Linked DNA regions of Homo sapiens: regions 2, 3 and 4 are each linked to region 1. The links come from fine-mapping of genetic effects on gene expression. A gene starts in region 1. Each other region holds a variant in brackets. All regions are shown on one strand. Distances are between the middles of the regions. Region 1 holds the start of NOL4L (nucleolar protein 4 like). Region 2 overlaps NOL4L (nucleolar protein 4 like). Region 3 overlaps NOL4L (nucleolar protein 4 like). Region 4 overlaps NOL4L (nucleolar protein 4 like).

Region 1 (8,071 bases):
AGGAGAAGCACAATAAATGCTGATGGATGGATTGATTATGGAGGAAGCATAGTAGCATGGTGGAAAATGCTGTAGACTTCAGTCTAGCACCTGCTTTTTGAGGATAAGCCCATTCATTCATTCATTCATTCATTTGGTTGGTTGGTTGCTTATTTATCCATTTATTCAATAACGTTTAAGCCTTAGCTCCTGTGCTGGGCACTGGTCGACACAGGTAATGAGGCCATCGTGAAATGCTGTGGTCAGAGCTGGGAGGGGGAAAGCCCAAGGCTCTATGAGTGACCAGAGAAAGCCCCTGACCCAACCTGAGAGGTCAGGAGGCCTTTCTAGAGAGGTGGGCGTACAGCAGCGGCTCAGCATGGCTGGCAGACTGCAGGGGGATGCTATAGAATAGGGGGATGGCAGGTGGTGGCACAAGCCCTTGATAGAAGGGGCACCAGCACCCAGTGGTGGTAACTACCTCTCCCCAAGGCTCTGGGGCCTCTCTGCTCTTCCTGGCCCTTGCGTGGACAGGCCTCTGTGGGAGCCTGAGTCACTCTGCCCCACCCCAGGCCTGGAACTTCCTGTGGCACAGTCAGGGCCACCTCACTGTCAAGTTGCAGGCATCCCCGCTCATCTGGGCCCAGGGTCAGAGCTCAGTGAAAGGCAGGTGATCTGGGCCAAATCAGGCAAAGGCCAGGTACCTGGTTCTGTCCTGCGGCCCTGAGCCTCTTTGCTCCTGTGGGACTCAGTTTACCCATCTATCAGAGGCAGGGTTTGGACTGTATACTCTGAGAACCCTTCATCACCAAGCTCTTGTGACCCATTACATTACTATCTGTATTCAGAGTGGACGTGAGCCCTGGGGGCTTGGACTCCCTGTGCTTCAACTCCAGTCTCCCTTGGACACCTGGACGAAGTGTGGAAAAAAAAAAAAATCCAGAGGCCGGGCATGGTGGCTCATGCCTGTAATCCCAGCACTTTGGGAGTCCAAGGCGGGAGAATCACTTGAGCCCAGGAGTGATTACGTTACTATCTGTATTCAGAGAGGACGTGAGCCCTGGGGGCTTGGACTCCCTGTGCTTCAACTCCAGTCTCCCTTGGACACCTGGACGAAGTGTGGAAAAAAAAAAAAAAATCCAGAGGCCGGGCATAGTGGCTCATGCCTGTAATCCCAGCACTTTGGGAGCCCAAGGCGGGAGAATCACTTGAGTCCAGCCTGGGCAACAAAGAGAGACTCTGTCTCTACAAAAAATAATTAAAAAAAAAATAGCTGCGTGTGGTGGTGCATGCCTGTGGTCCCAGCTACTGAGGAGGCTGAGGTGGGAGGATCACTTGAGCCTGGGAGGTAGAGACTCCAGTGAGCAGCAATTGCACCACAGCACTCAGCCTGGGAGACAGAGCGAGACCCTGTCTCAAAATTTTTAAAAATGCAGAGGATCTCCTGGCCTTTGATTCATGGGGCAGCCTACTTTTTCCTTTGGCAGGTGTCTGGAATGGAAATCAAAAAAGAGCAGCTGCCCCCTGGGACCGTGATTGCATCCCCCCAGGAGTTGGGCATTGTGGGAGACTTACCCCACACCCCACCCAGCATGCCCCTCCTAAAGGACCCCAGTGACACGGATAGGCTGAAGACCCAGGGTCTGTTTCTGCAAAAGTGGGGATGGGCCGCAGTAGGCTGTTCTCACTCCTTGGCTGTTCCACTCTCCCAGGAGCCCTTGGGGCAAGAGGCTGGGACGTGCCTGGTGCAGTGAGCTGTCACACAGTAGGGACACCTCCAGGCCTCTGACCTCCAAGACCACAGACCTCTGGACCCCTGCAGCTGCCCTCCTCTCCTCACTTCTTCTCTACCCCACAGTCCTGCTCGTTTAAAACTCGCCAGTAGCTCCCATAGCAGCTGGAATGCCATCCAAAGTATTTCCCAGGGTCTTCAAGACTCCTGCCCTCCAACCCCTCCTCCCTCACTTCAGTCTCACCACACTGGACACCTTCCAGCTTCTAGAAAATGCCAATCTCCTTCCACCTTGGGGCTTTTGCCCTTGCTCTTCCCTCATCCTGGAATGCAGGAACAGCATGCCTTGGCACCTGTCATTTAAGTCACTGCTCAGATGCTACCTCCTTAGAGGGGCCTTCCCTGATCCCCCTAAGAAAAGCAGCCCCTTCTTTGCATTATTTGCTATCACAGCTCTCTCTTTCCTTCGTGGCCCATTCCCCGGGCTGTTGTGATCAATAGCTGGTTTGTTCAATAGCCATCTTCCATACCCATTGGTGCACTCCCGTAGGGCAGGGACCTTGGGGATCCCATGACCATATCCCAAGCCCCTGCTGCACAATGGCTGCTAAACAAATGTTTGTTGAATGAATGAAGCACAAAAAGTGCCAACAATGCCTGTCTTCCTCCTTGAATACTTCGAGGCCCCATGAGGGAGAAAATGGCACTTACTGGGCACCCGTCACAGCTCAGGCACTCTCATCCTGTTGAATCTCTACATCTGTGACATCCTGTCCCGCTATACAGATGATGAAGTAGGGGCTCAGTGACCTGCCTGAGGTTACCCAGCAAAGGGTGGAATGATGGCTTCATTCCATTGTGAAGTAGCCAAGTGGGACCTGTGAGCATGAAGAATGCCACGCCAAATAATCATCAGGATTCACTTCCAAATCTGACTCCACCCGAAGCCCATGTTCTTTTCATTATACTATACATTCTGCTGTGCCAGAACTCAGCCCAAGATTGACAACCAGGTTTTTAGCTTCTGAAAGGCAGGCAAAGACCCAGCCTGGGTGGAGAGGTGGTCCGGCTTAGTGGTTATTGAAGTGGGTCCTGGAACTGGACAGAGAGACCAGGGCTCACACAAGGACCCCACCACCCAGGCACAGGGCATATTTGCCACAGTTATCATTACCATTGCCAGGCTAGAGCATCTCTGCTCTCAGGAAGAGTGTGCTGGAAGGATAACCGTCAAGGGACACATGGAAAAAGTCAGGGTCTGAGCTTCTTAATCACAGAAGCCCCTGCGCCCCTGGGGCTGGCCTTTGGGTAGTGCCTTCCCCGCTCTGAGTGGTCACCTCTTAAAAACGGGCATGCATACCAGCATAGATCCAAAAAGAGCTCTTGAGAAGATAAAGAGGAAAAATGACTGTGGAGTTGTTGGTGTATATAAAGTAACATGAAATGTAAATTATCTAAAAATAATCTCCCATGTGAAATGCAGAGAGAGGTTGGGGCTTGGGAGACCTCTAGGGTTCTTTCAGCATTTACTGGCACCTACTGTGTGCCAGGTGTTGTGCTAGGGCCTGTGCATATGAGGATGGGTCAGATATGGCCCTGAGCATCTGGAGCTCCCTGTCTACTGGGGGAAGTGAGCCAGGTATACACAGCGTGGGGCTCTCTCCGAGCGCGGTGAAAGGGGAAGAGTTTGTGTGTGATATGGCAGCAGCAGCCAGATGCACATGAGCTGAAACCCACCCCTCCTTCCTGCATGACCTTGAGCAGGTCAGGCCACCTCTCCAAGCCCCAGGTCTTCGTCTGTAAAATGGAGCCATTCCCTCTGCCTCTCAGAGTTGCCAGGACATGGCACGTAGTAGGTCCTGGGGTGGGGGACTTTGGGATGGGAGTAGACAGTAGTTCCTACGCAGGAAACGGTCCTGCACTAGACAAAGTCTGGGCCTCAGGACTTGGATGGTGACTTGCCTGCAGGAGTGTCATGGGGACATGGGGTGGACCCCCGGGGACAGCTGGGAGAGAAGTGCAGCAATTCCTCATGACCTGTTAAGGAAGTGGGGGGTAGGGGCACAGAAATCCTGGGGAATTGGCCTGTGCCTTTATTTATGTTGGTAATTTCATTAAGGGGGAGGGGACCAGCTAGCTCTACCCAAGGTCAGATCTGCCCAGGTAGGAGGGGGGCGGTGGGGCTACCTGAGTTTACTCAGCAAGAGATTCTAGGTCAAGGCGCACTCAGGAAGGCAGGGTGTCTCAGGATGAGTTTGTGGATGTGTTGAGAGTTTTCTGAAGCGGAGGTGGGATTGGGCTGAGGCCACAGGCGACTTCCCAGGGGGCCTGGGCCTGTCCCAGAGCAGTGGGGCAGGCAAGCAGAGGCAAAGCTGGCCAAACTTCGGGGAATTCAGGGTGAGGCAAAAGGAGAGGAAGTTTGGGGGCCCCGAAGGGCGGCGATGTGGGGTTCCCCCAGGGGAACACTGCTCTTCTGGCTTCGGCTCACGGGAGAGGTCAAGTCACTTGCGGGAGCGAGGGAGGGGGAGCCTGCCCTACACCTTCCCGGCCTGGCTAAGTGGGGCGGGGCGGCCGGGAGGTCGGCGTCTGGGCTGGGGTCTGCGCCCTACTCCCCGCGGGACCGCCGCGTCCGGGAGGAGCGGGGCCTGCGAAGCTCCGGGCCCGGCCCGGCCAGACGGAACGCGGTTCCTGGGCTGGGCACTGCGCGCCTGTGGTTCCTGCCCTCCCGGCGGCTGCGGGCGCGGCTGCCCCCGCGCCCCCAGGGGCCGGGCCGGGCGGGGGCTGGGCCCGGCGGGCGGGCGCAGGAGGAAGGGGGGGGCGGGCGGCGGCGAAGGCTGCGCCGCTCTAACAGGTGGGATCCCGCGGCGTGGTGGAGGCGGGCGCGGGAGGAGGAGGAGGAGGAGGAGGAAGAGCCGCGGCAGCGGGAGCCTGAGCAAGAGCAGGATGAGCCGCGCAAGCTGACAGCCACTGCTGCCGCCCGCGCCCAGGCTCGGTCTCGCTCCCAGCGCTCGGGGCCGCTCCCCGCCTCCCGCCTCCCCCGGCCGCCCGCGGGGCGGCCCGCCCCCTCTGCACCTCCGGGCCCGGAGCTGCCTCCATCGCTCCTGCATCCCGGCCGGGGGGAGGAGGAGGCGGAGCAGGAGGCGAGCCGGAGCCGCCGCCGCCAACGCCGCCGCCGCCGCCCGAGCAGGACAGAGCGCGCCGCAGCCCCGCGCGTCCGGCCGCCGCCCGCGCCCATCCAGCAGCCTCGCCGGAGCCACACCGCGGGACAGACGCGGCCGCGGCGCGTCCCGGCCCGGTCCAGCCCAGCCCAGCCCAGTCCCGGCACCGGGCGGCCCGGCGGCCGGCCCGCCCCCGAGGGCGCCGGGCGCGGCGGGAGGATGCCGAAGCCGACGCTGCTGCTGCGCGGGGGCTGGGAGCGCGAGCGCAGCCCCGGGGACTCGGAGCTGGGCCGCCAGTTCCGGGACTGGTGCTTGCGCACCTACGGCGACTCGGCCAAAACCAAGACGGTGACACGCAGCAAATACCAGCGGATCGCCGAGGTCCTGCAGGGCGGCGGCGGGACTGGCGCGGGCAGCGGCCCCGCAGCCGGCGAGAAAGGCAAGTTCCAGTTCTGGGTGCGCTCCAAGGGCTTCCGCCTGGGCAGCGGCCGGGAACCCAAGATGGGCCAAGTGGTGTATGTGCCGGTCAAGACGGGCTCGGTGAGTGCGCGCGCGGCGGCCGCGGGCGGGTCCCGCCGCGGGGCTTGGGGCAGGCGGGCGGGGGCGGGGTGGGGGTGTGGATGTGTGTCCGAACGTGTGTCCCTGAGGTTGTCCGTGTGTCGGGCCCGCCGGAGGCGCACGCGTCCCTGCTCACCGGCCCTTCCCGGCTCGCCTGGGCAGCGCTCCGGGTTCGGGGCGTCCCTGCCCCCCTCCGCGCCGCTGCCCGGGCCGTGGCCGTGCCGGGCAGGCTGTCCCGGGCTGCTCACCCCAGCATGTTCCGTCCTCTTGTCCCCTCCCCCCGCCAGCAGGCGGCTGCTCTGGAGCCCGAGCCTCCCCCCGCCCGCCCCGGGGCTGCCTGTCCCGGGCGCCTCGCGCTCCCGCCCCCGGGCCGGCTGGGCGGTGTGTGTGTGTGTGTGTGTGTGTGTGTGTGTGTGTGCGCGCGCGGAGGGTGGTGCCGCGGGGTGGGGGGGGGGGAGGGAGGCAGGGGCAGCCGCGGGACGGGGAGTCCGCCGGGCCTCCCAGCGCCAGGGGAGGGGGCCCGCCCGGGCACTGTCGCCCCGACCCCACCCGGGGCTGGCCCGGGGAGGGGCGGCCGGAGCCGCAGCCTGGCGCAGGAGCAGCCTCCCGCGGGTGGGTGGGGCGCCCCCTCAGCCCCCCGGGCCCCTCGTTCCCCCTTCATGGGACGGGGGAGGCCTGACCTATCCATCCCCTCCCCTCCCCCGTCCCCCGGGCCGGCCCGGTCCGGGCGGGGTGGCGTGGGGGAGGGGGCGGGGAACCGCAGCCGCCTAAAGGGAGGAGGCGGGCGGCCGGGCGGGGGCGTCCCCTCTGGCCCGGGGCGCCCTGGAGAGGGCGTGCGGCGCGGGCCCCGCGGCTCCCCCGCCGGGACCTCATTGTTCTGCAGAGGGTGGGGGCTGGGGGGGGGGCGGCCGCTCCCGGGGCGCTGCTGAGCTTTGAACTTTCCGTCGCCGAGACCCTCCATTAGTGCGTTCCGCCCCCGGCCCGGTCGGGCCGCGCCGGCCTCCCCCCGCCCTCCTTGCTCCCTCCCCGGCCGGAGCGCGAGAGCCGGGCCGCCCCGCGCCGGCCTCCCTCCCTCCCCCGCTCCCCCGCTCCCCCCTCCGCGCTCCTCCCCCGGCCGGCCCGCCCGCCCCGCGCTCAGCCCCGTCCCCGGCCGGAGCGGGCTCTTCACACACAATTGATTCGGTCGTTACGAAAAGTGCACTTGTCCCCTCCCCCTCCCCCTCCGCGGCCGCCCGGGCCGGGCCCGCGGGGTGAGGGGGCCGCGAGGGAGGGAGGCGGGAGCCGGGGAGCAGATCCGGAGGCGCCTCCCCCCGCGCCCAGGGGACGGGGCTGCAGGCCGCGGGGAGTGGGAGCCGCGAGCGCGGAGGGCGGGCGGCCCATCTGCGAGGAGCGCTGATAACCGCGCTGCGGCCGCCAGCAGCCCATCTGCGCCGCTGCCGCCTCCGGCCGGACCGGGAACAGGGGGCCGGGCAGAGGGGCGCGCCGGGACCGGGCTCCCCGAGGGGGAAGCTGGGGCAGTGACCCAGCCCGCGCAAGGCTGGGACCCTCCCAGCCTAAATCAGCACTCTCGCTCAAACCCGGCGAGTCTGGGTCATTGTCCCCTCCCCCGATCGAGTCCAGGACCCCTCCCCCAGCCCAAATCAGTGCCACTTTCCCAGATGGGGAGTATGGGTCAGCCCTCCCCACCCTGCCAGGTCGGTCCCCTCCTCGGTTCTCCCATCTTGGGTCACTGCCCCCCGCCGGAGGGCGGTTTTTCTGAGGTCAGTGACCCACGAGATGGTTGGCTGGGTCTTGCCCCCTACCCTAGGTCAGTGCCCTCTGCCATCAGGGCTTCCCGGGTCGGTGCCCCACCCCACCCCCCCATCCTGGTTACACCTCCCTGAAGAGCTGGAAGCCTTGGCCCAACCTTCTTAGTCTGAGGCAGGAGCCCTGAGTCCACCCTCTCCTGGAGTTGGGGGGTGACCCCCCAGACCTGGCAGCTGGCTCACTGGCTTTCTGTGTGGCTCGACTTCTCCCTAGGGAGTGGGCATCTGGAGCAGTCGTCCACTCTTTATCCACACAGCTGTAGAGGCTGAGCACCCCCTCCCCCTATCCAGGCCACATGCAGAAACTGGGTGCTGGGCCTGGACCCCAGGTCCTGCCGGCCCAGCTGCTGGCTTCAGATGCTCCTTGAGACCCACGCTGACCCGCTCTGCCTGCCCCTGGCAGCGCGACCGTCCCCAGTCTCCACCCTGGCTCTCAGACCAATAATGAGCCCTCCCCAAGGGACCACCTGCCTGGGAGGCAGAGAAAGGGGACCCAGGCCTCCCAGTCCAGGCTGCCAGGAGATCGACAAACACAACAGACGTGCCCTCCCTCGACAGCCCGCCCCTCGGGCTCCCCACGCCCGCCTGCCTGGCCTGCTGGTCCCGAGAGCCCGTCAGTTACCTGCCACTCGCCCAGCCAGCCGGAGCCAGGCAGGAGATGCCACCCCCATCTCCAAGTTCTTTCCTGGGGCCCAGTTATTATTTTTATATTTCCATTTTCCTTTTCACTGATCCAAGAGGAACAAATCCTGCTGGGAATTCTGGGGCAGCCATTGGCCTCTTCCTGGGAGGGGCTGAATGGGACCTCCTTTGAAAGGTGCAAAGGACGTCTCCCTGGC
Region 2 (8,071 bases), 87 kb after region 1:
GTCTCACCGTCACCTAGGCTGGAGTGTAGTGGCGTGATCCTCACTGCAGCCTCCGCCTCCCGGATTCAGGCATTTCTCTTGCCTCAGCCTCCTGAGTAACTGGAATTACAGGCGCCTGCCACCAAACCCAGCTAATTTTTGTACTTTCAGTAGAGACGGGGTTTCACCCTGTTGGCCAGGCTGATCTTGAACTCCTGACCTCAGGTGATCCGCCTGCCTCGGCCTCCCAAAGTGCTGGGATTACAGGCATGAGCCACCACACCCGGCCTCTAGAATACATTTTTTAAAATCATATAGAAAAATAGCAGACCCTGCCCCAGCCTCCCCACTTCAATTTCTACTCCCTAGGGACAGCCTCTTTTCTTTCTTATGTTTTAGCTGTCTCTTCTGGTATTTAACTCCTATTTTGGAATAACCTGCTTATACTATAAGTTCTTGATTTTTCAATTGGGGCTTTTGTTGTTGTTAATTTCTTGCTGTAGGAAATAAGTATTTGCACTCTTACACCCTCTCATAAATACACTTATTATTTCTCCTTCCTCCATCCTGCAACATATCTATACCTCTCTATTTAGATAAATTGCTATTCATTGTTTATATTATTATGACTGTGTGCATATTACTCATAGCTGACCCAATTAACATATGCTATGATTACATTTCCTTACATTTCCTTTCTTCGGATTCCCCAGAGTTAGTCATTGCCTCCTTTTCCCCATCCGTAGCTCTCTCTCTTTTGATATTGCCTATGCTGTGTGTGTTGTCATTTTTATTTTTATGTACTCAGATGTATCAATTTTTTCTTCAAATCGCTTCTGCATTTGAGTCTTAAAAAGGCTAACTCCACTCCATCCCCCATGTTTTCTTTTAGTATTTTTATGTTTTCATTTTTTTTTTGATAGACTATTTTTGAGAACAGTTTTAACTTTACAGAAAAATTGGGAAGATAGTACAGAGTATCCACATTGCCCACTCCTCGACACACAGTTTCCCGTATTATCAATGTCTTATATTAAGGTGATACATTTGTTACCACTAATGAACCACACTGATACATTATTGTAAGTAAAGTCTACAGTTTATTTAGATTCCTTTAGCTTTTACCTAATTTCCTTTTCTGTTCCAAGATTTCATCCAGGATACAACATTTAATTTTCATTGTAACATTTAATTCCATTTAATTGTCATGTCCCTTTAGTCTTCTTTGGGCTTTGACAGTTTCTCAGACTTTCCTTGTTTTTGATAACCTTGACAGTTTCGAAGAGTACTAGTTGTGTATTTTGTAGGATTTAGAAATTTGACATTTTTCTCTATATAAAACCGGGGTTATGGGTTATTAGGAGGAAGACCACAGACATGGAGTGTCATTTTCATCACATCCTGTTAAGGGTCCATAATATCAACATGATTTAGGACTGTTGCCATTGGCCTTGATCACACCTGGTTGAGATATTGGTTGTCAGGTTTCTCTCCTGTCAAGTGACTTTTCCCTCTTTCCACACTGTGCACTTGGGAAGGAAGGCACCGTGTGCAGCCCACACCTGAAGAGTGGGGAGTCATGTTCTGCCTTTTTTAGGGTGAATTATCAACGTAAATTATTTAGATTGCTTATGCATAGGAGATTTGTTTCTCCTCCCCCACTTATTAATTTATTCAGCCATTTATAGAAGTCGAGACTCATAGCTGTTTATTTTATGCTTTGATGATCATTCAATACTTCTTCATTTTGTTGTACAAATTGTTCTAGCTTTGGCCATTGGAGCTTTTTCAGTTGTTTCCTGTGCTCTTTTGCCATACCTCATTGGTGTTTGGGGTTTTTGTTTGTTCGTTTCTTGTTTTTTAGTGCTTCTTTGCTTTCTGGCACTGTAAGACTCCAGGCTCATCTTGCATATTTCCTGCCCCAATCCTGGAATCAGTGATTTCTCCAAGGAGCTCTGATTCCTTTTATTGGAAAACCATATTAAAAACCAAAATATCGGATCGAGACCATCCTGGCTAACACGATGAAACCATGTCTCTAGTAAAAAAAAAAAAAAAAAAGAAAGAAATACAAAAAAATTAGCTGGGCGTGGTGGCAGGCGCCTGTACTCCCAGCTACTTGGGAGGCTGAGGCAGAAGAATGGCATGAACCCGGGAGGCGGAGCTTGCAATGAGCCGAGATTGTGCCACTGCACTCCAGCCTGGGCAAGAAAGCAAGACTCCGTCTCAAAAAAAAAAAAAAAAAAATCTGGCTGGGCATGGTGGCTTACACCCATTATCCCAACACTTTGGGAGGCCAAGGCAGAAGGGTCTCTTGAGTTCAGGAGTTCAAGACCAGCCTGGGCAAACCTCATCTCTATATATTTTGTATAAAACAAAACAAAAAAACAAGATCTGGGCACTATGTGTGCCCATTGGTACTGAAGTATCCTTTCTTGCAGGCTCTTCCAGCTGACAGAGCAAAAAGCATACATGTTTTTATTTTCATTTTTTATATTTAATCTTTGATCCATTTGGAGCTTATGCTGACGTATTCTGAGATACAGATTCCGCTTAACCCTTTTGTCTCAGCATCATTTGTTAAATACTCCATTTTCCCCCACTGATTTGAGATGACACCTTTAAAACTTACTAAGTTTCCATCCAAAACAGAATCTACTTCTGTTTGGTCCACTGGGCTCCTTGACTATTCATGTAGCAGCTACCAAACTGTTTTAAGTGTGAAAACTTTATCATATGTTTTAATATCTAGTAGGAATTGTTCCTCTTTTGTTGGCTTTCTTTTTAAAAGTTTTGCTGGCTTGAAAAAAGGCATTACTTTGAAAAAAATAATTGTTCCTTTTTTTTTTTTTTTTTTTTTTGAGACAAGGTCTCCCTCTGTTGCCCAGGCTAGAGTGCAGTCGCAAAATCTTGGCTCACTACAACCTCCGCTGCCCAGGTTCAAGCAATTCTCCTGCCTCAGCTGACTGAGTAGCTGGGACTACAGATGCCTGCCACCATGCCCGGCTAATTTTTGCATTTTTAGTAGAGATGGGGTTTCACCATGTTGGCCAAGCTGGTCTGAAACTCCTGGCCTCAAGTGATCTGCCTGCCTCAGCCTCCCAAAGTGCTGGGATTACAGGCATGAGCCACCACACCCAGCCAAAAATTGTTTCTTTAATGCCTAAAAATGTTTGTATCCGCTTTTTGGTGGAGGAAAAATACTGCAGCAGCACCACTGATCTGACCACATGAGCATTATGTGAAGACACTTTATCCCAGGCCTCTTTGTTCACTGACAAACAGAGGTGGACTGAGAACCAGGAGCACCATGAGCCCAGTGTCAGGATCGGGGGGCTCTAAACATGGACAGCACAGCATTCCCCATCCTCCTAAAATGGTATCATGCAAAATAGGGCATTTATTTAAAAAAAAATTTTTTTTGGCCAGGAGCAGTGGCTCACGCCTGTAATCCCAGCACTTTGGGAGGCCAAGGTGGGCAGATCACAAGGCCAGGAGTTTGAGACCAGCCTGACCAACATGGTGAAGCCCCGTCTCTACTAAAAATACAAAAATTAGCTGGCGTGGTGGCAGGAGCCTGTAATCCCAGGTACTCAGGAGGTTGAGGCAGGAGAATCACTTGAACCTGGGAAGCAGAGGTTGCAGTGAGCTGAGATTGCACCACTGCACTCCAGCCTAGGCAACAGAGCAAGACCAAGACTCTGCCTCAAAAACAAACAAACACAAAAATTTTTTAAGTAGAAACAGTGCTTCACTTTGTTGCCCAGGCTGATCTTGAACTTCTGGGCCTCCCAAAGAAAATAGTGCATTTCTTTTTTTTTTTTTTTTTTTTTATTGAGACAGGGTCTCACTCCCGTTGCCCAGGGTAGAGTGCAGTGGTGCAATCACAGCTCAATGCAGCCTCGACTTCCCAGGCTCTAGTGATCCTCCCACCTCAGCCTCCCGAGTAGCTGGAACTACAGGCACACACCACCACACCTGGCTAATTTTTTGCACTTTTTATAGAGATGGGGCTTCACGTGTTGCCCAGGCTGGTCTTGAACTCCTGGGCTCAAGCGATCCTCCCACTTTGGCCTCCTAAAGTGCTGGAATGACAGGCATGAGCCACCATGCCCTGTGAAAATAGGGCATTTCTAAACTTGAGAGGGAATGATTTATCAGAAAGCTTTTTTTTTTTTTAAGAGAACAGAGAGAGGCGTGAAAAGCTCATTGTCAAACATCTTTTGTTATGGGACATTATTTTTGCAATCAGTATATGTTCTTGAACATCCTGGGGTGCTTTCTAGAAACTTACTACAATTTCCAAATTCTCACAGAAAATGAGCATTTCCTCTGTTTTGTGAGGGCAACCTGAGCTGGGAGAGGTCTGTGTCTTTTCTTTCCTCTCACTTCCCTGAAGCTGTGTGGGAAAGTGGAAAACAGCCACCACCCTGTCTGGAGAGCCAGTGTCTGGTGGGGTTGGCAGATACCCCGAACCTGAACAGCTCATTGTCCCCAGCAGCTCCTTGAGGCTCGAGCCCCTTCCGGGCTGCAGACCTCCAC[C/T]CCTACAAATGCGAGAATGCCAAGGTGGCCTTTCAACTTTATTATCTGGGGGAAAAAATGCAGGAAGCACTCGTAATTTACTGGTGCAAGCAGGAGAGCTGCCTGGTGCCATAAGCAGCAATACTGCATGCAGGGCTGGCCTCGGGACGCTTTGTGTGTGTCAAGGGAAAAGCTTGCACAGGTCAGGAGCTGCTACCTGGGCGTCCATGAATGAAGGGGGGAAGTGGCTCTGTCCTGTCAGAGCTCTGGCAGTAAAACACCCCTGCCAGGCAGCCCAGGGAGCTGACTCCGGTCTGTTTCTAAGGACAAGAGAGACCTAACAGGAAAGGAGACGTCTTTCCTGGGCTGGGCCAGGAAGGAGCAGCTCAAAACATCCAGATGGTCCCTGTACTGATGGCTGCCCTTGTGACCGCCACAGCCTAACCAAGACCCAGAAGGGATTCGTGATCTTGTGGCTAAGTCCCGTTCCGTTTTGCAACTAAACTCCTCACTCCAGCTTTTGGGTGCCTCTTTCACCCAGAACTAGTGGGATATTTTGGGCAGGGTGCTTTTCTGCAGCCGTCCCTGGTTTTCCTTGCTTTTTATTTTGAATGCGGGACCCCTGATGGCTTTGTCAAGCCTTCTACTTAAGGCACTGAAACTCAGGCAGCTCAGCCCCCTGGCAGCTGAGCATTTAGTGGTTGTGACTTTTACACAGGTTCTTGACCCACCCTGACTCTTGTCAGCCTGATGGGTCCTTTTCATGTGGGGCCCAGATAGGCCCTGTCACCCCCAGCAAAGAGCAGCTCCAGGAGACCTGACTCCATGGGGCGGGTGGGTGGGCCAGGGCTTTGTAACCAGACCTGGAGGGTGCAGGAGGGTTTCAGACGCTTCAGCAGCTGATGTCTGGAGATCAATTAGAGATAATGGCTTTGGGTGGACTGGAAGAAGCATGGCCAAGCTTTTTCCTGGTCATGATTGTGTTTACCTCATTATCGGGCTTTTTTTTTTTTTTTTTTTTTGAGGGTAGGAGGGCACAGTATTGCTTTGTGAATTTGTGCTGTCTGCTTTGTTTTGCTCGGGGTGACTGGGTGTGGATCCCGGCAGGCGGGTAGCTCCCCGACCCCTATTCAGACTGAGAGGCACACAGCACAGCTGCTGCTCACGGCCGACCAGACCCTTGTCCTCCCTGCAACACAGCATTATGTAGTTTTAAAGAAATTTCCTAGGCCAGGTGTGGTGGTTCATGCCTGTAATCCCAGCACTTTTTGGGAGGCTGAGGCGGGTGGATCACCTGAGGTCAGTTCGAGACCAGCCCGGCCAACATGATGAAACCCTGTCTCTACTAAAAATACAAAAAATTAGCCAGCTGTGGTGGCAGGCACCTGTAGTTCCAGCTACTCGGGAGGCTGAGGCAGAAGAATCACTTGAACCTGGGAGGCAGAGGTTGCAGTGAGCTGAGATCATGCCACTGTACTCCAGCTTGGGCAACAAGAGTGAAACTCTCTCAAAAAAAAAAAAGAAAGAAAGAAATTTCTTCCTTCCTTCACTCAAAAATCATTTCCGAGGTTCCTACTACATGCTGGAGGTCATTCCAAGCACGGAAGATACCACAGTGAATGAGACAGATAAGGTACCCATCCCTAGGAGCTCACAGGCCTGGAGATGATAAACAAGGCAATATAAAAAAATATGCAAAAGGAGGAAATTTGGGGTAGATAATTAAAATAGAGTAAGATGACAGACTGTGCCTCAGGGCAAGAAGGCCTCTCTGAAGAGGCAGCATCCGAGCCAAGGCCTGAATGGTGAGAAGTGGCCAGCCCTGCAGAGATGAAGTGGGAGGGCTTTCCAGGCACAGGAGACAGCACATGCAAAGACCCTGGGGTAGGAACAGCAGTGGGGCTCAGATAGAGGAGTAAGGGGGAGCTATGCCTGGGAGCCGTCTTCAAAGGCAGCTCTCCCAGGGCCTGCCAGCCGGGTGCACATGTGTTGTGATGTGAAGCCTAGTGGTGATCTTTCTCTGCCAGAGGGAAGCAGGGCAGGGACCTGGGCCTGTCTCAGGTCGAAAGTGGAGATGAGCACCTGAGAGGGAGTCCAGCGACTCTGGTTCTAGGTGTGCCTCTGCCCCACGAGTCATCTAACTTCTTTTATTGGGGTGCAGTGATATGATCACAGCTCACTGCAGCCTTGACCTCCTGAGCTCAAGCAATTCTCCCACCTCAGCCTCCTGAGTAGCTGGGACCACAGGTGCTCAACACCGCGCCCAGCTAATGTTTGTATTTTTTGTAGGGATGGGGTCTCGCCATGTTGCCCAGGCTGGTCTTGAACTCCTGGGCTTAAGCATTCCCCCACCTCAGCCTCCCCAAAGTGCTGGGACGTGAGCCACTGCGCCCCAGCCATCTAACTTCTTCATGCTGCAGCTTCCCTGTTACTAGATCAGCAGGTTTGGGTCAGACATCTGTGGCTTTCAAATTTTACATTTTGATGGAGGAACCCCTTTCTTCAAGGGACTGTCTTCTGGGGAGGAAGTTGAGTGGGTCAGGGGTCAGCAGCAGACAGGCATGTTGCTGGCAATGCTGGGCACGGAGCCCAGAGCCCGCCTACCTACCCCTTTCGTCCCCAGCAGCCCATCTGCCTCTCCTGCACCACCTCAGGAATAGGCCCGGGCAGCCCTGAGCTTTGGCTTGCGGTGCCGAAGATAGTCAAGGAGAGGGGCTCGATCCAGCACAACCACAAGCAGCCTCCTCGACAGATATGAGTCACAGAGCCCATGCCCTGCCAGCCCCATGGTCATTCTAAGGCTCTGGCATTTAGAATGGCTCTAAATACCTCAAGAGATAAGATAGAAACAGAAGATGTTCTTTAACTGGGATACTCCTGTGGCTGAGGAAGTGCCCAGGCACACTTGTGCTGCAGCCGTGACAGTTTTCCCTCCTTCAGAGTCCACAAGTGAGGGAACTAAATGCTTGTCTGCTCCCCAGGCACCACAGTACGCACAGCAGGTGCCTGGACGTAGCGTAGCACCCCTGTGTCCTCTTCAAAGAGTCAAGAGGCTCCTGTGTCCTCTTGAAAGAGAAAAGGCCACATGGGAGTGGGGGATCCTTGCCATCTAGTCCACCCGCGGACAGGAGCCATGTGAATAAGCCAGGAATGCTTTTGACTACAGGCCCCCAAACCCAGTTGACTATAGCAAAACATGAAGTTATTTTACTCCTAAAACAAGAAGAATGGAGGAGCCGCCGCTGGTGCCATTTGCAATGTTGGGTTGGTGTCTCTGTGATGTTATTGAGGCTTTTCCTCATGGTTGCAAGTTGCCTGCTATTGCTCCAACCTTGTCCACATTCGAGGCATTGTGTTGATGTCTCATTGCTGCAAAAGGGTCACGTGGTTCCCAGTTGTAAGGGAGGCTGGGAAAGAAAGAATTTCATGTTTCTACCCTCTGTGGTTGAAAAAGATAAGGGAGAATGTTGATTCAGGGCATAATATCAAGAAAACTGGTTCACAGTCTCTGCCACAGCCTGGGCACCATCAACTAAACTTTGACAATCACTTTGGGTGTTAAGATGCCGAA
Region 3 (8,071 bases), 55 kb after region 1:
TGATCCTCCCACCTCAGCTTCCTGAGTACCTGGGACTACAGTCGAATGCCGCCACGCCCAGCTAGGTTTTTTGCATTTTCTGTAGAGACCTCCTGGCGGCGGGGGGTGGGGGGAGTGGGGGTCACCGTATTGCCCAGGCTGGTCTTGAACTCCTGAGCTCAAGCGATCCTCCCACCTCTGTCTCCCAAAGTGCTGGGATTAGAGGCGTGAGCCATTGCACCCAGCCCTGACTGAATTTATTAAGGCTGGGTTTTGGGGACAGGAGGAATGGCATGATTGCAGAAGTTGGGAAGAGCATGCTAGTAATTAATATGCAGGGTAATTTTTGTCTGTGATCTCAGCCACTTTGATGGCCTGGATGGGATGGAGCGGCATCCTCACATTTGCCTGTGCAATCAGCCCCCTGAAGTCCTGGGCTCCCTCCCACGTGGTAGCCAAAGATTTGCTTCCTTTGGGGTGGGCTCTACTGGCTGACTTTCTCGTCCAATAGCAATCTCGTTGATTTTTATTCCTTGTCAAGAGCTGGATCCGAAATGCACCAGAAGGCCTATCCTAAGGCCTTTCTCTGTGGTTTTTTCTTCTACCATCGGAGAAACCCAGTTGAGAAATGTCTCCGCTATTTAGCCGCATCCTCTCAACCATGGCCTCGTCGTTGCTGGAAGGCACACTCTACTAATATAGTGATGGTGGCACACTAAATGGCACCCTGGTGGCCTAAAACTGTGATCCCACCTTGATAAGTATGTAACTTATTACCAGCAAGTGACTTCGAAGCTCTAATGGAGATGACAGAACTGCAATCCATTAGCAACTGGACCTCACTTCACCATCAGGGGCAGGGGTCCATTTAATTGGCTCATGTGGGGAGACAGGCAAGATTCAGTCCGATTCAGGAGCTCCCTGAGGTCGCCCCGGCAGGAGCCTGTCTAATGGCCTGGTAAGACATGCCGATCCCCCTCTTAGGTCTGCAGCCTGGGAATTAGCATGCTGAGCATTCAGATCCATCTGAGGAAAACGAGGAAGCCAGAAAGGACCTGCCAAGGGATGCCCTGCTTAAGTATTTATTAACTTTGCCAGGGAGGACTTAAAAATCTGATGTCAGGATGCAGGGCGTTCCTGCTCTTTCTATCCATAATCCACATTAAGTCTCTGGGCAGATGTGTTGAATTTATACTAATGTTGCCCAATAAGATTCTTTTGTTCTCACCATTAGGAAAATTGGCCTTCATCGGAAATGAAAATATTAATATATTAGGCCAGGAAGCACAGAGCATGTCTATATTTAATGAGCCAATACCTGTTTTCCTACAGTTACCTCCCTGGCTCAATCATGGAGACATTCTGATCAGCAGTTCTCAAAATCTGTCTTGCATCAGAATCATCTGGGGGGGCCTGTTAAAACCCCCAGCACATCAGATTTGGTAGGTTTAAGGTGGAACCTGAAAATGTGCATTTCTAACAAGTTCCCAGGTGATGCCAATGCTGCTGGTCTAAGGACCATTGCTGTAATATTTTGAAATATCAGATGTATTTAAGTAGACATTTGGTGATTTTGTCAATGACTTGCCACCTAGCTTTTCATTTAGAACCCAAATGGGCTGGTGTTAAGGGAGCTGGTGATGTCCAAGAATGTAGCTCCATAAATGTGTAGGTTTTTTTTGTTTTTGTTTTTGTTTTAGAGATGGGTCTTGCTGTGTTGCCCAGGCTAGACTCAAACCCCTGGGCTCAAGTGGTCTTCCCATCTCAGCATCCTGAGTAGCTGAGACTACAGGCATGCGCCACCATGCCCAGCTTCTCCATAAATTTTTAAAACTATTGCCATGTCTGATTCTGTTGGCCTGGCTCTGGCAGGCTGTTTGGGGGTTGGATGGTTCGAAAGGATGGTGTGTGTTACCATGGCAATGTTCTTCTCCATGCAGGAAGGCCCCAGAGGTTGATCCTACACAAGTGACTGTGTGTTTTTCGTGGTTCTTCCCATGGGGTGATACAGGGTTCCATTCCATTACTCCTGCTAGGTGTTTCCAGGAAGCTGGGATAGGCAGGAGACTCCAAGTCCCTTCTTGATCCAGCCTATAGATAAAGTGAACTTCCTTTGTCAATTCACTGTCCAGTTTGCTTAGGGCAATGGATTAGATGAAGCTAATTTGGGTACCAGGCAGAAGGGGGATGGCAGGGGCTTCCCAAGTCTACAGGGAAGGTGCTTTCTGCTTCCTTTATTAGCAGCTCTTCCCTTGCAGCACTGTCTGGATCCTTAGCTAGGGAAGGCCTGCCTCCCCTGCAGCATTTAGCATGAAGGTTATTACCTCCATGGATGCAAGGGATAGCAGAGATGTCTGCGGCACGTGACTACTGTCGGATCCCTTTGTTGCTGTCTTCTCAGGGTTCTCCTTGAAGGCCACGTAGACATCCTGGCGTTCTTCCCCTAGGGTGTAGCACACATGGAATCCAGGTGGCCCTAGCTCACCAGAGGACAGTTCAAGGTATGGCTCTGCAGCCCTTGCGTGGTTTGAGTTCTGGTCGCTCCAGGCCCTCTCCTTTCCTATGTAAATCTTTGCTGTAGAGATAGGTGGATTACAGGACCCAAATTTGAACATTAAGGGAGAAAGTGATCAATTTTTAAAGAAGGAACTAACTGAAAACTGCTTCCCTGAATAATTTTGCTGGGATTAATTTTATGGTCACATTGGACCAGGTGCAAAGCTGTTGTTTACCAGAGTCAACCTAAGAGGGCAGGTGGGAGGCTGGGAAGAGACAGGCCACATGGGACAGTACGTTTTGCTTTTTTATCTGGGTTGGTCAATTACACTTTGACTTTTGGAAAGCTTATTCCAAGTTTGTGGGAGCCTTAGCATATTATTTAGGAATTAAATAAGACTGTGCATCTCTTCTGATGGTGGGTGTTACTGAGGGGGACACATTTTGTCATGGGTCCCCTCTGGACGCGTCAGAGGGACCAGAGATAAGAGGAGATTCCTAAACACAAAATGTCCAGACTCAGAGGGGTCCAAGGGAAGAGATGAACATTAACCAAGTCTGTATGTGCTGGATGCCTGACATACATTCTTGATCCTTGGAACATCCAACTAGCACTTTTTAGGCCCATTTTATAGGTGCGGAAACTGACTTTCAAGAGGTATAAAAATAGGCCGGGCACAGTGGCTCACACATGTAATCCCAGCACTTTGGGAGGCTGAGGTGGATGGATCACCTGAGGTCAGGAGTTTCAGATCAGCCTGGCCAACATGGTGAAACGCCATCTCTCCTAAAAATACAAAAATTAGCCAGGTGTGGTGGCAGGCGCCTTTAATCCCAGTTACTTGGGAGGCCGAGGCAGGAGAATCGTTTGAACCCAGGAGCCAGAGGTTGCAGTGAGCACTCCAGCCTGATGGCAGAGTGAGACTGTGTTTCAAAAAAAAGAAAAAAAAAAAAGGTATAGAAATAAAGTAACCCA[C/T]CTAAGGCCCCCACAAGCTGGTTAGGGGGAAATTTCCATCTCACCTACATAAAATATTGTCTCCTCATCAGATTGCTTTCTTTCTCCATTCCTTCCCACAAAATTTTATCTCCTTCCTTTTCCAGAAATATCTGTGTTCTGGTCTGAAACAATTTTGAACAGGGAGGTCTATTGGCCTTTAAGCAGCTAAGCCTCTAGAGCTATGCCTCTGGATTCAGGTGATCCAAATGTGGCTGACTTCACTCTATACTTAAAAATGGTAAAGATGGTACATTCTGCATGGGTATTTTACCTGAATTTAAAAATTCAGTGGAACTACCCCCATGATATCCTTTTTAAAAACTGTTTTTTAAATTAAAGTTTATCAGACATACAGAAATACACAGATTATAAATGTTAAGGTTTTTGTTTTTGTTTTTTTTTTGAGATGGAGTTTCACTCTTGTTGCCCAGGCTAGAGTGCAATGGCGTGATCTCAGCTCACTGCAACCTCTGTCTCCTGGATTCAAGTGATTCTCCTGCCTCAGCCTCCTGAGGAGCTGGGATTACAGGCATGCACCACCACACCCAGCTAATTTTCTATTTTTAGTAGAGACGGGGTTTCTCCATGTTGGTCAGGCTGGTCTCAAACTCCCGACCTCAGGTGATCTGGCTGCCTGGGCCTCCCAAAGTGTTGGGATTACAGTCATGAGCCACCATTCCCGGCCAAGTGTTAAGATTTAATGACTTAATAAATTGAACACACTTCTATAACTACTGCCCAGATCAACAAATAGAAACCCAGCTATATTCATTTTTTTTTTTTTGAGATGGAATCTCGCTCTGTTGCCCAGGCTGGAGTGCGGTGGCGCGATCTCGGCTCACTGCAAGCTCTGCCTCCCGGGTTCACACCATTCTTCTGCCTCAGCCTCCCGAGTAGCCGGGACTACAGGCTCCCGCCACCATGCCCGGCTAATTTTTTGTATTTTTAGTAGAGACAGGGTTTCACCATGTTAGCCAGGATGGTCTCGATCTCCTGACCTCATGATCCACCCGCCTTGGCCTCCCAAAGTGCTGGGATTACAGGCGTGAGCCACCGCGCCCAGCCAAAACCAGCTATATTCATTCTTAAGGTTCATTTTGTTTATTTTCACCAATGTGAACCTCTGGTTAGAAGTGTATTATAACTGTACATCCCAAATCCATATCTTTGCTGAGTAAAAAATTTTTTAAAAGTCTAACTGACCTATCATAATATTTGTCCCATCCCAACCCTGTCATGGCAGTATATGAAGAGCCCTGTAATGCTGGGCATTTACGGGTCAATAGTGAACAAGTTAGTCATTGATCAGCCCGTACAGATGGCCTGAGATGTCGGAGGGGGTGGGATACTCCCCAAAAGAGGTAAAATTGATTCCTGAGAGAGGTTAAGAGCAGAAAAGTCATGGAACTTTACAGCTCATCTCATAAATGAAGCTCGGGGAGGTTGAAGGGTTTGCCCATAATCTCACAGCGAGGAAGCTGGACCAGCAAGTGGCTTCTCCTGTACACACAGAGAGAGAGAGATATGTGCTATCTGAGACGTCCCACTGAAATGGGTTCTGACCAGGAAGGAAGCCACTGGCAAGAGGGCCTTGTTGGGGCCAGTGAGGTCACCTCCCAGGGTTACCACTTAGGGACACTGCCCGCTAGCTGTGGGGCTCGGGACCCCACATCCCAGATGCCCTTTGCCCCCCATCTGCTCTCTGCTCTTGAATGGGCTGCTGGTGAAGAGACACTGCTGTTCGGCCATCATGGTGTGTCGAGAAAGCTACTGGGTGAAACCAAGACCTGTCTGTGCCAGAACGTGTTGTGAGCGAGCGTCACCTCCCAGTGTGGCCTGTATTCTACTTGGACTACAGAGTCCAAGGTCTGAAGCCATCTGTGCCATCCACCAGCCACTGTACCTCAGGCAGGTCCTGACCCTAACAACCTCCGAGGGTTGCCCCGGTGTTCGGCTCTCTCATACCTGGGGGAAACATGGTGAACTGCAAAGCACTTCTTAATAACAATATCTAGCAATCCCTGTACTCCAGGCTCAGTGCCAAGTGCTGCACACACAACTCAGTTCTTCATGGGAAAGGGGCTTCTGTTATCCCCATTTTACAGATAAAGGGCCTGAAGCTCGAAGCACAGTAAGTGCTCGGGGTCACAGGGCCACTTCCATGATGGGGCCGTATTCAAACCATGGCAGAGTGTGTCCAAGTGACCCTGCCCAGCTGCCACTTATGACCACTCAGTCATTCAGTCATTATTTACTGACTACCTACTATGTGTCAGGCACTGTTGTAAGTGCTGGAGAGAGCTGAGAAGGAGCAGGCGAAGCCCACATCCTCTTGTTGCTGACATCCTTGAGTTGGGGTCCTTTGGGGAAGAATTCTCTTGGAGATGTGTCTTTTGGGCACTTTTAGAGAAAAGCCTGCTTCCTTTCCCCTCAAATTCCCTCCATATGGCTTGCTCTTGATCTTCAAAGCCCCCTAACGTCCCCACAGACTCCCCTGAAGGAGCTGGTGGCTGACAGCCTAGTGTCTCTGGGTCTGTGTATCTCCCTTGTGAGGACTGCCTGCACGGAGCAGTTCCCCAGCAGTCCGTTCCCTTCCGGGCCCTGGCCTCACCCCCAGCCTCCTGCCCTGTGGTTTCCCTGCAGCCCCCTTTCCTGCTGGAGGGGAGGGCAGGCGTCAGCCCCACAGCTGTTTGCTATTGAAGGACCCGTCTTGCTCCTGGCACACCTAGTCGGGCCAGCTGACACCACTCAGCCAGCCTGATAAGAGGCTCGGGGCCCACGGCCGCCCCGTTCACACGGCCCTGCCACCTCCTCGTGGCCTCGTGCCTGTTATTCTGTACATCTCCACACACAAAGGGCCCGGGTGCCGTTGCTGGCGCTCAGCTGCTGGAGTGGGGAGGGCAGGCAGCCGCGAAAAGCTTTTCAGAAAGGCCAGGGCGGAGGCAGGAGTCACCCAGGTGATCGGAGCTGTTCCCCCGGGACCCCAGCCCAGGCCCACAGTGAAAGGTTACTGCTAATTGGCGAGCTCCTGATGGGGCCGCATCTATTTAGCACTCCCCCCTCCCCAGAGACTTCCAGGATGGTCTTGGCACAGCGTGTGATTCAAGAGCTCCCCGCCCGAGTCTGGCACAATCTGTCTGAAATTGTGAACATGGAGCCTCTTGGTTTTTTAATTTGTATTTTCGTTGTCGCCGTTCTCTGCCCATTGTTGCTGGTAGATTTCATAGCTGCAGCCACCCTGACTCTGGCGTCCCCCTCCAGGGAGCCCCCTCGGTAGGCTCCCTCCCCTCCCCACCCCAAGACCCACTGTCGGAGGCATTGCCCGTCCTGACCCCTTGCCCCGGCCTCAGGGCCCAGTTCTCACCCCGCCATCATTCCTGACACTAACACAGCTTGTCCACCCTGTCGCAGGGGGCAGATGGCCTGTCGGAGCCAGAGGGCATCTCTCTGAAGCGGGTCGCTGTGGTGGAAGATTTCTTTGACATCATCTACTCGATGCATGTGGAGAGCTCAGCGGAGCCAGGCAAAGCCCCCAAGCACGCTGGGCAGAAGAAAACCTACCGAGCGGTGAGATTTCTGTCTCTTTGCCTCCACTGGCAGCCCCAGGCCTTGGCAGGAGGCCACGGGCTCCGCACATGTTGGGCTTGGGGGGCGGGGCAGGGAGCTGAGGCGTGATGAAACGGCCTTTGGGGATCTAGGGGGGCACAGGGCAAGGGCACGGCAGCCAGAGATGGCTCACAGGGCGAGGGGAGGGAATCTGTGGTCTGAGCACAAAGGAAAAGCAGGTTGAAGGGGGTGAGAGGGAGGGAAGGAGAGGGATGAGGGCAGGAGGCGCCCTCCTCTTCCCCGTTTCTGCTTCACTTGCTCCCACCCGACACCACCCCCAGCCCCTTGCAGCCTGTTCTGGGGCTGGGGTGCTGGGGACAGATAATAATCAGAGGAGCAAATGCCTTCATGGCATGGCATTTACTGCATGCCAGGCCTGTCCTGAGCTCTTCCTATGTGTGAGCTCATCCTGTGAAGTCAGGACTGGGAGTTCCCCAGGGGAAGTCGAAGGACCTGCTCCCCACCCTCCAGGAGATCACAATTGGATTTGGGGTGGGGAGGCTGAGAGCAAAAACAAGATACATGAGAAGCAGAAATGTCTCCAAGGCTCGCTTTGAGAGAGCAAGAACCCAGGCTCAGGGGCATTTAGCACAGGCACCGCCAGACACAGATGAGCCCGGGGGACTGTGTGGAGAAGGTGACACCTGTACTGGCATTCTACGCTTTGGGGAGGCATAAGGGCAAAAAAGGCAACCTAGGGGCAGGAAGCATCACAAATGCCAGGGAGGTGGAAATAGATGGGACTGGCCAGACCAGAGGCCCCTCCTCACCCTGCAGAGGGGCCTGCCTGTGTTCTGATCCATCTCCTGCTGACCCACATGTGGGCCTATCCACAGCTCATACATAGCTCTGAACCATTTGTCCAGTGCCCAGGGAAGCCAGTAAAGCCAAGCCCTTCATGCTCATTCAAGCCTTGATGCAGTCCTGTGACCGAGGCACTGAGGACCCATTTCACAGTTAAGGAAACTGGGACCCAGAGAATTGGGTCACTTG
Region 4 (8,071 bases), 130 kb after region 1:
GGACGCCTGGCCCAGGGGACCTGCTGCAGCCGAGGGGGAGGGGTGCACTGCGCCGCCGTGGCCTCCCATCCCCCTCTGCCCGGCCTGGCTGCATGATGGGCAGCCTGGACCCGCCCCCGGGCAGCCGGGAGGCCAGCAATTGGTTGGGGCGCTAGAGCCGCTCGGTCGCCATGGGGACGCTCTGGAGGTGCGCGTGCCCAGTGCCCAGCACCGGGGACTAAATCTTCATAATCTGCCGGCTGGGAGGGTGGGGGTGGGGTCCGGCGTGACCCTGGCCTGGGGGAAGGGGCGGCAGGGCCCGCTGTGACCACCCCTCCCCCACCCACTCTGGGTGCAGGTGTGGAGCCGCCAGGGTCACCCGTACCTCCCCGGGACCCTCGCGGGTGCTCACCTGACAGTGACCCCGGGAGTTCCCGTGCAGCTTCAGCCTCTGCCGTCTCAGCTGAGCAAGCAGGAGGCCGGGGCTGGGGCTGGGGCTGGGTGGGCAGAGAGGCCTGGAATGTATCTGGAACTGTCTGGTCCCCTGGTTAAAGTTTCCTCCCCCGCGCCCGCAGGCTGGCGGTGCCGCGCTCTTTGCGGCAGGGGGCGCCCTCGCAGTGCTTTGCCGGGGCTGCCCACCCTGAGACGCCGGGCAGGCCCACTCGGGGGCCGCGTGCAGACCCCAGACCTTGCAGCCCCGGCTTTGCACGTCCCAGGCCGTGGGGCCTGCACGGAGCGCAGATTCGGGGGCCACCGTGCCTGTGCCTAGGCTGCCAGGGCTGGGCTTGCTTACAGGAGGGAGTGAATGGCTGGAGGTCACAGTAGAGCCATCCTTCCTGCTTCCGGCAGAGGAAGGAGACATTTGAGGGCCCACCGTGGGCAGGGGCTCTGAGAGCTCGAAGCTGCAAGGCAGTGCCCGGCAGCAGGAGCAGGGTGGGTGGGAGGTGCGGTCCTGGGAGCTGGGGAGAAGGGAGAGCCTGGCCGGGCTTCGAGGGCCTCCAGGGCCCTCTGACAGGCCACTCACTCCCAAACCCTTGGAGCTCGGTCTCCCTTAAGCCTGGACATAACGCTTGCGAGTTTGGGGTGCAGGAAGACCCTCCATGCCCTGCACAGCCCTGCCTGGCCACACCCCTCCTGATGGCCCCTCTGTTCTGGCAGAGGGGACCCTGTGGCTGCCTCAGCTGAGGCTGTGGGCTGGGGCAAATTGCCTCTGAGGTGGGGTAGCAGCACTCACCCCAACCCAGGGACACTCATGAGGAGGACACAGGGTGGGATACTCCGAGGTGGCTGCAGTGGCCACAGTGCCTTGGGTGGGGCCTCACACCCAGGCCTCTCATTCCAGATGACTCCTCCTCTGAGAGTGGCAGCGGCAATGGCTCCTCCACCCTGAACCCATCCACGTCGAGCAGCACGCAGGGCGACCCTGCCTTCCCCGAGATGAATGGCAACGGCGCCGTGGCCCCCATGGACTTCACCACGGCCGCCGAGGATCAGCCCATCAACCTGTGTGACAAGCTCCCGCCGGCCACGGCACTTGGCACAGCCTCCTACCCCTCGGATGGCTGCGGTGCCGACGGGCTGCGGAGCCGCGTCAAATACGGGGTGAAGACCACCCCCGAGGTGTGTGGGGCTGGGGGCTGAGTCCATTTCTTTCTGTAAAGGGCTGTCGCGAGGCGAGAATGAAATTGTATACGCCCAGAGCTTAGCTGGAGCCAGCCCATGTGTGTGACACCGAGCCAGGGTGGTGGCTGTGGCTGGTATGTGTTCGGTTCCTGGTGAAGCTCTGGAATGGGAGATGGCTTGGAGTGTGCCCCCAAGCCAGGCCCCCTTCTCCGAGCCTGTGAAGTGGAGCTGACGGCCCCTGCCTTGGTAGAGGTGGTAGGTGGATATGCATCCCCACAACCCATCCCCCTCCCCCAGAACAGCATCTGCTGGGGATAACAGCAAGTGGCCACTTTCGGCACAGCCAGGTACGAGGCCTCCCACTGCCTGGTTTGTCTGCGTGCCTGTCCCCATTTTATAGGTCGTGCGAAAAAAGGGCGAGGGCCCAGGGATGTGGGCAGTGGAACTCCTCCTTTGACTAGGCTGATGGACGGTGGTAAGGGTGGGCACAGTACGTACCCCTACCAGTGGGCATCCCCCCTGCTTCCTGGGGCCTCCCCCACACTTCCACAAGCTGCCTCCGGGCCACTAAGGTTTCCTGTAGTAGTGCCTCTTCTCCAACCTGGGCCCGGGGGCCAGAGGTGCCTTCCTGGAGCTTACACCTCTGGACAGGCTCTTCTCCCTCTCTGGGCCTGTTTTCTCTTCTGCAGAGAGAGTGGAGTAGGTGCTACTGCCTGCCTCATTTGGAATGTCTCGTGGGGACATTCTGTACCATGGGCTCAGTGCTGAGTTGTTGCTATGTGTCTAGCACAGGTGGCTGGGAGCAGGTTCTGGCCAGAGCAGGCTTTGCCTGGGTCCAAGGGACAGGCATAGCTGCTGTTCCATGAAGGGGGTGAGTTGTGTTCAGCAGCCATTGCCACTGTGGCCACAGGGTACATGGGGGGCCCAGGGAAGTGAGATGAGAGCAGGAACGCCACCAGCAGCTCCTATCTTAGTTTTTTCTCCATCTGTCTGCCCTGGCCCTGGCTCAGGGTTTGGCTGAGGAGTGGCGTGGGAATGTGGCTTGCCTGGGGCCACACGGCCAGTTATGGTAGCCAGCGGGGGCCCTCGGCATCCTGCCCCTATCCAAGTCTGTATGTGGACGAAGAGACAGGCACCAGGCCAGTGACCCTAGGGCACCAACCCCTGCGGGCCTGGTCCCAGGGAGAGAGGCCTGGCGGGGGCCGTGCTGTGGGACCAGGTGCCAGGCAATGCCCTTCTTCCTGGATTTGCTCCTCAGTGAGTGCTGTTCCCTTCCGGGCTGTGCCATGGCCATGCTGCCACATCACAGGGTCTGACCATACCGCCACCTGTTCCCTGAGCCTGCCTTACCTGCTAGATGCCAACCTCCTTGAGGGCAGGGACAGTGTCCCCAGGCTACTGTCAGTCACGATCTGAACGAGTACTTAGGACACATCGAAGGCACAAACTTTCCGAAAGGCAACAGTGGTCCTCAGCCGTCCCAGAGCGGTGCCCCGAGGCAGGGGCAGGAGACAGGTGGTGTGGGAGCTGAGCCATGAAGGATGAGAAGATGGAGGGGCATGGGGGAAAAGAGGGAGCTGCTCCTAAGGAGAGATGGTTGAGGGGCTTGGCCAGGGAGAAACTCGTGGTGGGAGCAGAGGGCTGGAGCCCTTCTCTACTGGAGGACAGGAGACTGCTGGGGGAGGCCGGATCCGGTTCCCTCTCCCTTTCTACCCGCATATTCTCAAGGGGCCACTGTGCTGTCCTGG[G/A]TGGGGGGCAGACAGGAGAAGTCCAGCTCAGGAGCTGCGGGAACGCATCCTGCTGAACGGACCTGTCGCCCTGGCTGGCTACCTCGCCCAGCGCATCTGTTCCTCCTCCCGACAGACAGCATGCTCGTTGCTTTGGTGACAGCTCGGTTGTCAACTTGGGGTTGCAGCCCCTTGGGGATCAGGGAGGAAAACCCCGAAGCCAAAATATATCTTGGCACGAGAGGAGGCTGGCGGGTGGTGGGAGTCCTTTCCATGTCTGCCTTTCCCCTGTACACGTGGCAGGTCCTGGTGTTGGCCTCTGCTGAGGAAACAGCTGACACCCTCCTAAGCGCTCAGCAGCCCCGGGAACCAGGTCTCTGCATACACTATTGCAGTCGGTCCTCCCTGCGGCAGCCCAGGGAGGGAGGTGGTAGCATTGCTGTCCCCATTGCACAGATGAAGGGAGCAGAAGAGGGGAGTGACTTGCTCAGGGCCTCGCAGCTATGGCTCTCGTGGCAGCAGGGCATGCGTGCCACCCTGGTCCCCAAGCTCACCGCCTGTAGGAGACCCAGCAAGGGCTTGAGCAGCTGCTTGGCCCAACCCTCTGCCTCTTGCCCTCCTTTTAGTCCCCCCCCTACAGCTCTGGGAGCTACGATTCCATCAAGACCGAGGTCAGCGGCTGCCCTGAGGACCTGACAGTGGGCCGGGCCCCGACGGCAGATGATGACGACGATGACCACGATGACCATGAGGACAATGACAAGATGAACGACTCTGAAGGCATGGACCCTGAGCGTCTTAAGGCCTTCAACGTGAGCACCGGCCGGAAACAGGTGGGGTGGGATGGGGGCAAGGCCAGGGCCAGCCCTTCCCATGGCCCGTGTCTCCACAGATGTTTGTGCGTCTCTTTGTGGACGAGAACCTGGACCGCATGGTGCCCATCTCCAAGCAGCCCAAGGAGAAGATCCAGGCCATCATCGAGTCCTGCAGCCGGCAGTTCCCTGAGTTCCAGGAGCGGGCCCGCAAGCGCATCCGCACGTACCTCAAGTCCTGCCGTCGCATGAAGAAGAACGGCATGGAGATGGTGAGTCCCCCCTGCCTGGCCCACACTTTCCCTCGGTGCCACTACTGACCTCCTGCCACACTCCCAGGATGCCCGGGCCCCTTCACCCAGGGTCTTCCCAGGAGCCCTGGAAGCAAGTACCATAATCCCTGGTTTGCAAATGAGGGAACTAAGGCCCAGAAAGATCACACAGCTCCATAGACTGAGGCGCTGGAGCCCAAACCCCACCCTGTGCCACCCACCCCTGGGGCAGGGTCTCTGCACAAGCCCAGGGCCCCCACGGGCCCCATGCTAGCTCCATCCCCGTTCTGCCTGCAGACCAGACCCACGCCACCCCATCTGACCTCGGCCATGGCAGAAAACATCCTGGCAGCTGCCTGTGAGAGCGAGACAAGAAAGGCAGCCAAGCGGATGCGTCTAGAGATCTACCAGTCCTCACAGGTACCTGCCACCGCAGCCACTACAGGGGCCGCTCCTGGGCAGCCAGGGAGGGCAGGCCTTATATGGGTGTGGACTGAGGGAGCTGTGATGGGTACAGTCGGGAGAAGGGCAGAGGGGGAACAGGAGGGCAAAGACAAGGAGAGGAGGTGGGTGGAGGTCAGGTGTGTTGTTCTCAGAGCTCCTCAGACCTCATACGGAAGCCTGGACTTCATCTGGAGACCAGAGGGCCCTGATCAAATACGCTGACAGGGAGATGAGCAGAGTTGGGGAAAGCCCCCGGGGGGAAGGTGGCTGGGGGAGGGGACAGACAGAATCCCACAGGTCAAACCGCAGCATTGGGTCCCAGGAGTCCTGGGGCCGCAGCATTTATCCACCTTGTGTCCAGGGATGGTAGTTGGGGCCAGCTGCCCCTTGGTTTCCCCAGCGCCCCCCTCTCCCCTCTGCAGGATGAGCCCATAGCCCTGGACAAGCAGCACTCGCGGGACTCCGCAGCCATCACCCACTCCACCTACTCACTGCCAGCCTCCTCCTACTCCCAGGACCCTGTGTACGCCAACGGCGGCCTCAACTACAGTTACCGCGGGTACGGGGCCTTGAGCAGCAACCTGCAGCCCCCTGCCTCCCTCCAAACAGGAAACCACAGTAATGGTGAGTCGGGGGAGGCCTGGGCTCTGGCTTCCCGACCAGCACCCAGCTGGGTCTGCAGAGCAGCCCTGGGCAGCGGAATGGGGAGAGGGAAGCAGAGGCCAGTGATGGAAAGGGGCTGCCTCACAGCATAGGGAGCAGGAGGGGCGGCTCTGGCACCCTTCCACTTCATCGTCTTAGCTGGTCCTTAGATTGGAAGGTGAAGGAGACTCAGTTGGTTAAAGCAAAAACCTACCGCCCCCTTCTCACCGCCAGTGACGCTTGCTCCAACACTTCCCACCTTCACTACCGGCGCCTCTCACTGGTTCCACTCCCCCAGGGTCCCTGTGGGTGCCGAGTCCCAGCCAAGGGCCTGTTCTTGGCCTGAGTTGAATCTCCGCAGCCCCGTCTGTCTCACCCATAGCGACTGAGGCTCAGTGAGACAGCTGCTGGCCTGGCCCAGCTGTGGCCCCGCTGGCCTGCAGGGCGGCTCCCTCCCCAGGCCTCAGCTCAGGGCCTGCCTTGTGAGGTGAAAGCTTTCCTCACCTGGGTGCTGGGCCTCCGTTCTTGCCCCTGCATTCATGGAGCCTACATCTGAGACACCTGGGGTGATGGTGCACACCTGCTCCCTCGCTCCGCTCCTGTAGCTGGGTGATTCAGTAGGTGCTTTTCCGGTAACTCCCCAGGCTACTCTGCGCAGATGGGGCACAGACCATTAGAGGAGACAGCCCCCGAAGAGACAGAGGCTTCCTCATGGAGTCAGGTGCTGCCGTGAGCACGAACTGGAATGGGGAACCTCAGACCCCTTTACTGTGAGGCCAAGGGAAGCAGGGGAGGAGTGGGGTCAGCCTGGTGGGTCACAGGACCTCTTGGGCCAGGCACTCGGGTTGTGTTCTGTGTGCAGGAGGAGCCCCTGCTAGGTTTTAAGCACAGAAGGGCCGTGAATTGTGTGGTCTGTGTCATTCTGTCTGCCCCTGTAAGAAGGTTTGAATGGGCAGAGCAAGAGGCAGAAGCCATGTGCTTTGGGGGTCGTTCAGAAGCCAGGGAATGAAGGGAAGAATTGAGGAACCTGAGTAGGTTGGAGAAAGGTGCCACCTGTAAGCTGGGGAACCCTGGTGCAAGGTCTTGGCTAAACATGCCTGAGGATTCCCTAAGCCCCCATCCTTGGCTGCAGGAGACCCCTCACTGTTCCTGGGCAGCAAGGGAGGGAGCTAGTCCCCACCCATGGCAGGAAGCCCAGGCTGCCTCCACTCGCCTTGACCCCCGCCACCCCCCAGAACCAGGAAGTGTATGCAGGTCCCTGGAAGATTCCTGCCTGGGCTTAACTCCTCATCCCTTCCTAATGCCTCTTAACCTAAAATAAGAGGCCGCCTGGCCCTAATCCCTGAAGCTAAGGCCGGAGTGGCCAGCACGGTGAGAGGTGGAGTGGCTGTCCTAGGCGGGCTCCTTTCATTCCAGGAAGAAAAGCCCTGCCCCCCCTACACATGGGGGTCTGGGGCTCAGCAGGTGAGGTGAGGGTGGTCTGGGGCCTGCTCCCTCCTAGCAGCAGGCGATGGTGACAAGCCTCTACCTGGTGTCCACCCAGCATGACCTATTTCAGGGCTGCGGCTGCCAAGTCCCCCTGACCCTCCTAAGGGCCTCTCATATTAGGGCTGAGCCTGCTTCATGCCTGCCCGTTCACACCTGCCCAAGAGGCACAAACAGCAGCCAGAGAATGATTCTTCCAGGGAGGCAGCTGGCTCTGCCCTTGTGCATCCTGGGGTCTCAGTCTCCCATCTGTGAATACCCTGGTTCCTTCATGGTGGGTGGGGAGGCCACTGACGCAGAAATCTGGTCATTTACCTCCTTGCCTGGGGCAGCCCCTGTCCTTGAGCACTAGTACCTCATTTGAAGAACATTGTTTAAATCCTCCAGCAGTTGAAGGAAGACAACAGGCAGCCACGTGGTTGCAGGGCCACCCAGCCCCACTGGCCTCCCCAGCCTCAGCCTTTCAAGTATTGTTCAATCAGTTTGGTACCTCAGCCGGGCAGCCGTATTAATGGCTCAGAGCTCCTCACTTTGCTCATTATGTTGTCATCTGGAGATGCAAATCAGCTTAGATAGAATCAGGCTCGGCCTGTCTTGCCTGGGGTGCTGGGTAACTCATGCTCACTCCTATCCCTCTACCCACCATACGGCAGTCCCTCGGCAACCTGAGCATCTGGCTGTAACCAGAGTCTACACGGGGGTGTCTCCAGATCAGATCAGCTGCAGGAAACAGGGACCTTCTCCTTTCCAAGCCTCAGCTACAGCCCAGGAGAGAAGGGAGGAAGCTCTGAGCACAGGCATGAACAGGATAGCACTTGGGGAGAGGAGAAAAGAAAGGAACCGGGACCACTGCTCATGTTGACTATGCCAGGAGGCTCTGGCCACTCCCAAGCATGACGCAGAGGGGACCAGAACCACCCTAGAGAGAACCAGACCCTCTTCCCCCGCATCCCTCTGGGTCCATCCCCTGCAATATCCAGAAGTTAGCAGAGGCACTCCTGTTCCAAGCTTCTCAGTCCCGCATTGTGACAACACCCTGGGAGTCAGTCACCTGTTTGGCTGCTGTTTCCAGACACAGCCCCAACCC

Evidence for each region.
Region 2: its variant is fine-mapped to the expression of NOL4L in whole blood (TOPMed, PIP 0.98).
Region 3: its variant is fine-mapped to the expression of NOL4L in whole blood (INTERVAL, PIP 0.96).
Region 4: its variant is fine-mapped to the expression of NOL4L in T cells (TOPMed, PIP above 0.99). The same link has a PIP of 0.9 or more in aorta, blood mononuclear cells, breast, gastroesophageal junction, lung and memory regulatory T cells.

The regions. Positions count from the first base shown.
Region 1 is chr20:32,581,908-32,589,978 of GRCh38, reverse strand. It overlaps NOL4L (nucleolar protein 4 like), which reads left to right and starts at 4,646. Exons shown (of 11, transcript NM_001256798.2): 1 at 4,646-5,409. The coding sequence starts at 5,089. NOL4L-DT (NOL4L divergent transcript) reads right to left here and starts at 2,500. Exons shown (of 3, transcript NR_034152.1): 1 at 2,423-2,500. RefSeq lists an enhancer at 3,994-4,073 and silencers at 4,264-4,453, 4,674-4,723, 4,784-4,943, 5,084-5,133, 5,474-5,673 and 4 more.
Region 2 is chr20:32,494,508-32,502,578 of GRCh38, reverse strand. The region is part of intron 4 of NOL4L (nucleolar protein 4 like); the gene reads left to right. Among named protein-coding and RNA genes, the nearest start is that of NOL4L-AS1, 63 kb to the left of the region's middle. RefSeq lists an enhancer at 5,118-5,634. The variant C/T (reference allele first, on the strand shown) is at 4,522.
Region 3 is chr20:32,526,726-32,534,796 of GRCh38, reverse strand. NOL4L (nucleolar protein 4 like) reads left to right here. Exons shown (of 11, transcript NM_001256798.2): 2 at 6,884-7,039. Among named protein-coding and RNA genes, the nearest start is that of NOL4L-AS1, 30 kb to the left of the region's middle. RefSeq lists enhancers at 1-171, 5,486-8,071 and a silencer at 7,329-7,502. The variant C/T (reference allele first, on the strand shown) is at 3,452.
Region 4 is chr20:32,449,646-32,457,716 of GRCh38, reverse strand. NOL4L (nucleolar protein 4 like) reads left to right here. Exons shown (of 11, transcript NM_001256798.2): 6 at 1,322-1,599; 7 at 3,956-4,141; 8 at 4,222-4,413; 9 at 4,711-4,833; 10 at 5,280-5,481. Among named protein-coding and RNA genes, the nearest start is that of ASXL1, 95 kb to the right of the region's middle. RefSeq lists silencers at 1-62, 493-542, 553-822 and enhancers at 1-215, 216-1,131. The variant G/A (reference allele first, on the strand shown) is at 3,351.